Linked DNA regions of Homo sapiens. The protein of the gene in region 2 interacts with the protein of the main gene of each other region in a pairwise test. Each region holds a gene or a part of one and is shown on either strand. Other genes may lie near its edges.

The links.
Region 1: the proteins of SLC51B (region 2) and ASPH interact in binary tests that used the Homo sapiens proteins (3 or more experiments, as listed by UniProt).

The regions. Positions count from the first base shown.
Region 1 is NC_000008.11:61,503,993-61,508,592, reverse strand, and holds part of ASPH (aspartyl/asparaginyl beta-hydroxylase), read left to right. Parts: intron 1-4,600.
Region 2 is NC_000015.10:65,048,387-65,051,141, reverse strand, and holds part of SLC51B (organic solute transporter subunit beta), read right to left. Parts: intron 1,955-2,755; exon of another isoform or gene 1,246-1,954; 5' UTR 1,138-1,245; coding exon 1,041-1,137; exon of another isoform or gene 1-1,040.

The DNA.
Region 1 (4,600 bases), on a different chromosome or scaffold from region 2:
GCTAAGATATTATCTATAAAATTTGTAGGTAGAAGACTCTATAAGCACCTAGTATCATTACTTAGCCTTATTAATATCAATGGTAATTCTGTGACCAAATTATAGTTATTAAATATGCACTGCCACCATTTTATCATTATCATTATTTATAATTATAATAATTTGAGAAGTTGACAGATTATGGAATACTGTTTTATCTTAGGACGAGATATTCTTATATCTTTTGACAACCCAGAGAGAGACTTTCTTCTCTTAGTGGTAAGAAATTCTAACAGAAGGCCAGGAACAGTGGCTCACACCTGTAATCCCAACTCTTTGAGAGGCCAAAGCAGGAGAATTGTTTGAGCCCAGGAGTTGGAGAGCAGCCTGGGCAACATGGGGAAACCCCATCTCTACAAAAAAATCCAAAAATTAGCTGGATGTGGTGGCACATACCTGTAGTCCTAGGTACTCGGGAGACTGAGGTGGGAGGATCACCTGAGCCTGGGAGGCGGAGGCTGCATTGAGCTGTGATGGTGCCACCACACTCCAGCCTGGGTGACAGAGCAAATCCTGTCTTGAAAAAAATAAAGGGTTAGGTGGGAGGAGAGAAAGAGAGAGAGGAAGGGAAGGAGGAAGTTCCAACAGTGAGCCAAGCTTCCAGGGATGGAGAGCAGTGCCCACCCCCAATGCTGCTTCTCTGGGTCCTTAGACAAGGCTGTAACAGTACTTCCAGGCAGACCTCTGTCACAGGCCGCTCTGAAGATTGTTTCTCCAAAGGGCTGATTGTATGTCGTAATTCGAGTGTAACTTAATCTTATTTGATGGAGCTTTGTTCACAAAGCAAGTGGCCTGAAAACTAGTTCTTTGCATTCTAATGAGAGTCTTTGGTTTTCAGTCAGAAGCGATTTGACATCTTTATGCTCCTCTCCCTTTGTTGTGGAAAAAAAACATCCTTTCCCAAGCATGTGATACATCTCGAATTTAACCTGGAGTCACTTAAGTCTGGACATGGCTTGTAGGATGTTTTATTGTTCTTCATTTTCCCCTTTTAGGTGAATCGTGACTACAGTTTTAGTCATTCTATCTCTAATAACTGATTGAAAGACACCATTTTTTTAAGAATTCAGAAGAAATCTACATTAAAAAATCTACATTATGTTATTGACTATCTTTGCTATTTTCTGGGGAAATGTATGAAAGAAAGTGGAAGGGCAAATAAGTCCGACAGCACTCACTTTCCCCATAGAGTTTTATGACCCTGAAACAGGCCAATTAACAACCCTTTGGTATACCTCCCCAAATTTCTTATTTATACAATTGGTTAATTAATGGTTTACACTGATCTGTATTGTACTTAATGTATCTGGAAAGCTGCAAGCCTGTGGTTCTTAAGTTCTACTTTTATATGCACTGATGTTCCATGAGTGACCAGCGTGTTCCGGTGCTAATAACTTTTCCCAGTTCTCAGGAATTTAATTTAATGAATGGAATGCTTAAGGCCTTTTTCCCAGAAAACAATTCTAGATCTTTGGCTTTGTTATACGTATCATAATCTAGTGAAAAATGTCATTTTGTGTGGGCTAGAATTTTCTATTCAGTTATTTTAATTACTTCTAGTGTTTTAAGTAGTTTCCAGGTTCTCTGCCACCCAAAAAACTTTGAAAATCACTTGTCATTGCTGTACAAACTACATTTCACAGATGCTCTGAAGATGTTTTTATATCTCATCTCCCTTGGAAGTTTTTAGTTGTCTCAAAGGAAGGCAGACAACATCATAAAGAGTGATGCATATGTCATTTTTGATAACATACCACTTCCCAACATTTCACCTCTGTCTTTTATCTTTTCCCTATTTTTCTTTATATTTTCATTTTTCTGTCATTAATTGAATATCTACTATTGCCAATCATATGCTAATCCTCACATCAATTATGCCGATGAAGACACAAAGAATCAATTATGCTAAGTAGCTCACCTTAGGTCCCATAAGTAATAAATGCCAAGGTCAAGAGGATTCCCCTCAAAGACCATAAATTTCCATCTTCCTGTATTGCTTCTTTCTTTCTCCTCTACCACATGCTCTCCTTTGCCTTTCCCTTTTTTCTCTATTTAATTGTAGTAAAATACACATAACAAAATTTACCATATTATCCATTTTTAGGTGTGCAGTTTAGTGACATTAAGTACATCCATATTGTATAACCATCAACATGATCTATCCTCAAAACTCTTTCTAACTTGCAAAACTGAAACTATACCCATTAAATAACTCCCATTCCCGTCCTCCCACCGGCCACTGGCAACCACTCTTCTCCTTTCTCTCTCTGTGAATTTAACTACTAGTCTAGGACCTCAGATGTGTAGAATCAACTAGTAATTATCTTTTTGTGTCTGGCTTATTTTACTTGACATAATGTCCTCTGAGTTCATACATGTTGTAGCATGTGTCAAAATTTCCTTCCTTTTTAAGGCTGAATTAATATTCCATTGTATGTGTATACCACATTTTGTTTGTCTGTTCATTCACTGATAGATACGTGGGTGGCTCTCACCTTCTAGCTGTTGTGAATAGTGCTGCTGTGAACATAGGTGCACTGCCTTTCATTTTGAGTACACTTCCTCCCTCATCTTCTACATAAATTATAGGCTCGTTTGTGGTACCCACTGACATTGCTTAATCCCGGTGACAACACTGAGACCTAGAAAATGCCTGCCTAACTGTGGAAGCTGTGGACTGTTTCACTGATTTTTCTTGTCAGCGTATTTCCCCGCCTTGGTTTTGCCTTTCTTCTCAAGTTAGATTTTGCATGGTAATGAATGCATATTCTGTCATTTTCTCCTAAGTCCATAGATTTCTGTCTTTTGCTACCCTTGATGGAACTCCAATGGAACTCTAAAAACCTTCAGAGGAGTTGTAGAAGAGCCAATCAACATGTGTGTGTTGAATGCAAGAGATGAGGCAAGGTGTATTAGTCCGTTTTCATGCAGCTGATAAAGACATACCTGAGACTGAGAAGAAAAAGAAGTTTAATTGCACTTACAGTTCCACATGGCTGGGGAGGACTCAGAATCATGGTGGGAGGCAAAAGGCACTTCTTTTTTTTTTTTTTTTTTTTTGAGATGGAGTCTTGCTCTGTCACTCAGTCTGGAGCACAGTGGCATGATCTCAGCTCACTGCAACCTCTGCCTCCCAGGTTCAAGCAATTTCCTGCCTCAGCCTCCTGAGTAGCTGGGATTACAGGCATGCGCTACCACGCCTGGCTAATTTTTGTATTTTTAGTGGAGATGGGGGTTTCACCATGTTGGCCAGGCTGGCCTCGAACCCCTGACCTTGTGATCCACTGTCCTCAGCCTCCCAAAGTGCTGAGATTACAGGCGTGAGCCACCGCATCCAGCTGAAAGGCACTTCTTACCTGGTGGCGGCAAGAGAAAATAAGGAAGATGCAAAAGCGGGAACCCCTGATGAAACCATCAGATCTCATGATACTTATTCACTATGATGAGGACAGTATGGGGGAAGCTGCCCCCATGATTCAAATTATCTCTCATCGGGTCCTTCCCACAGCATGTGGGAATTATGGGAGTACAATTCAAGATGAGATTTGGGTGGGGACACATCCAAACCATATCACGAAGTGTATGAGATAGCACACTGGGTGGAGGTGGGAGGGTGGGTAGTAGAAGTAGAGGTTCAGTTCCCAACTTCAGTGAACTTTCAACTTGCAAATACTCAGTACTTTATCTGTTAGTTTACATAACTTGGAAATTTTATTATCAGACTTATTCAGTATGTCAGTTATTTTCCACTGGAATGATTTTTGCTCCTGCTCCCACCCTGGACATTTGGCAATGACTAGAGATGTTTCTGGTTGTCACAACTATGGCAAAAACTACAATTACTTTTGCACCAACCTCATGGTATAGGGAATGCTACTGCCATACAGTGGGTGGAGGTCAGGGGTGCCGCTAAATATCTCATAGTGCATGGAACAGCCCCTACAACAGAGAATGATCCAGCCTAGATGTCAGTAGTACCACGGTTGTGAAGCCCTGCAATATATGTAGTATTGCTCAGTTTATATTAGTTAATCACCTGATATGGAACATAAAAATTCACCACTAGTTTTCGCACAGAAAACCTCTTTATGATAATATAGTAACTTGAAATCAAGCTAGCATTTCCCATGCTATAATAGTCATTATTTGCTAATCCAGGATGTAAAATTTTGAAGGCTTAAGTGGCATTTTAGTATCTAAGGAAAATTTTCTAGCAAAAATTTTATTTTAAAAACATAACTTGGTATTTAATATATTGGCAGTTAATATCTATTTTTAAAATAAGGAACCATCAGTGTCCCTCATAAACTCTCTTTGGATTTGAAAAGCATTGTGTTACTGCCTCCTGTATGTTTCTCTCTTAATAGACTAACACTATATTTAGATCGCAGTCCCTATACAGATATCTTATGAGGTAAAGTTGGAAGCTCTATAGGGTGTTTTGCAGCATTGATTTAAAATATCCCATGGATAACCCACTTGCATAGAAGATGATACTAAAAATATAAACAAAATTTATTCCCAATCTGCCCATTTTCTTCAGCTGGAATACTAGCTAGGA
Region 2 (2,755 bases):
CTGGGCTCAGTGGCTCACGCCTATAATCCCAGCACTTTGGGAAGCCGAGTCAGGTGGATCACCTGAGGTCGGGAGTTCAAGACCAGCCTGGCCAACATGGTGAAATGCTGTCTCTACTAAAAATACAAAAATTAGCTGGGTGTGGTGGCATACACTGTAATCCCAGCTACTCAGGAGACTGAGGCATGAGAATCACTTGAATCCAGGAGGCAGAGCTTGCAGTGAGCCAAGATTGCACCACTGCACTCCAGCCTGGGCAACAGAGTGACCCTGCCTCAAAAAAAAGGCAAAAAAAAAAAAAAAAAGAAGAAGAAGAAGAAAGAAAAAAAAAGGAAAGAAAGAAGGCAGGGAGAAGGGTGGAAGGAATGGCAACTGCCCACAGATAATACATGAAGTGACTAAACTGAATGTGGCTACTCAAGATTTGTCCATGCTGTACCCAAATGAAGCAGGGTCCAGCCTCAGAGCTCTTGCATTTGCTGTCCTCCCTCCAGGAATGTTCCTCCCCCAAATAATTTGCATACCTAATTATTTCCTTAGTTTCCTGCAAGTCACCTTCCTGATGATAAAAATGTCACCTTTTTAGTGAGGCCTTCCTTGACCACATTACTGCCCTTGCTGCATACTTCCTATTCTCTTTCTCTGTTTAATTTTTCTTTTTATTACTCATCACCAACGCACTATGCGTTTTAGTTGTTTATTTTTAATCCCCACTAGAATGTACATTCCATGAAGGCAGAGATTTTTGTGTTTTATTCACTATTGTCGCCCCAGTGCTGAGAACAGTGTCTGGTACAGAGTAGGAGCTTAATAAATGTGATGATTGGAGGGCTGCATAAATAAGCGACCACACCCTGAGAAAAGGAAGGGGCGGTCCAGCCAGACCCCTCTGGGTACTGAGACACCCCGACTGATTCCCTGTCTTGGAGGAAATGTACCGCCTGACCTGGAGGGGACGACAGTGTCAGGACCTTCAGCCAAACTCTGCTCTGTGTTGAGGGGCACACCCCCACCCCTGCCGTCAATCTCTCACCACTTACCATCTTCCACACGAAAAAACCAAAGCATCTCTTCCAGCAGCTCCTGGGGTACCACAGTACCGGCTGGGTCTCCGGGAGCCCCCTCACTGTGCTCCATGCCCCTGCTCCTGGTAGCGTGTGCAACGAGGTCCTTAGACCCCTTAGCCCCAGCAGCCCTCCTGGCCTCCTCGGTTCTGGCCCCTGGGCAGAGAAGCCGTGAAGACCCCTGGAAACAAAGCAGACAGCATGACTGGATATCCCACCCGAGTTTGATCTCCCTCTGTGCCCAAATCCAGATCTCCTCTGGCCCAAAGTTATGGGACAAAAACGACCCGAACGAACCCAGGAGCACGTGGAGCCTGGAGGGGCAGAGACTGGAAGTGGGAGTGACTCAAATATTTATTAAAAGCCATCGCATGTGTGGAGGAGCACTGTTCTGGGAGTGAGGAGGACTGAGCCACTGGCGAGTTCTGGGACCCTTGCAAAGGACATCTCGGGTCTTCGCCTGCCTGTTCAGCGTCCGCACCTGGCTTCTACGAGCCCACAGCGCGCCCACGCGTTGCCATAGCAACTTGTCCCTTGGGTGTCATGCGGTAGCCAATCACAGGCCTGTGTTTCCCCACATGTCAAAGGCTGGGCCTATCACGCCTCTCTCCTGGGGATTGGCACGCCTACGACACAGAGAGGAGAAAAGGGAAAAGTGCCGGAGGGAAAGGCAGCTGCCGGCTCCTGATGCTGAGAGGGCACCCCCTGCCCCGACCCCGAGAGCTTTTTTTTTCTTTTTCTTTTTTTTTTGGACAAGTTAGCAGAATTGGTTTCTGTTATTTGCAAGGGAAGAACTTGAATCCATGCTCTCTGGATAAATCCCTTACTTCGTGTAGGCCTATTTCCATCCCAACTATTAATAATAAACTGAACCTCAGTCAATCTCAAAACAGTCAGACATTTTGACGTCTTCTTGTACTAACTGCATTATTACTACTTAATATAAAATTTTCTAGCATCCATACTTTACAAAACAAAAAGAAATAGGTAAAATTAATTTTGACAACATATATTATTCAGGCCAATATTAAAATTGTTAAGTTATTTCGCTTTTTTTTTTTTTTTTTTGAGACGGAGTCTCACTCTGTCGCCCAGGCTGGAGTGCAGTGGCACGATCTCTGCTCACTGCAACCTCCGCCTCCCAGGTTCAAGCGATTCTCCTGTCTCAGCCTCCTAAGTAGCTGGAATTACAGGCGCATGTCACTACCGCCCCACTAATTTTTGTATTTTTAGTAGAGATGGGGTTTCACCATGTTGGCCAGGCTGGTCTCGAACTCTTGACCTCAGGTGATCCACCCGCCTTGGCCTCCCAAAGTACTGGGATTACAGGAGTGAGCCACCGCGCCTGACCCAATAACACATTTTTTTAAAAGGACACGCATTAAACACATTAAGCTGTGTCTTGGGGAGGAGGAGGAAGGGAGTAGGAATGGAGATAAACGTAACTAAAATAAAACAAGAGAAGTGTTTTGAACAGATCAATTATAAAACATGCCATAGGGCACCAAGAAAAAAAGTGTACAGGGAGGATCGAAGCATTCTCAGGTCCCCTCACACTCTGTCACTGCCTTAGGTGCTCAACAATCTCAGCCCCAAATAGCCTTTGGACACTTAGCCAGGGGCATTCAAAAACAGCTAGATGGCAAACAGCCAGACAGAAAATTGGAGTATCAACAAAAGGACTAGCTTTA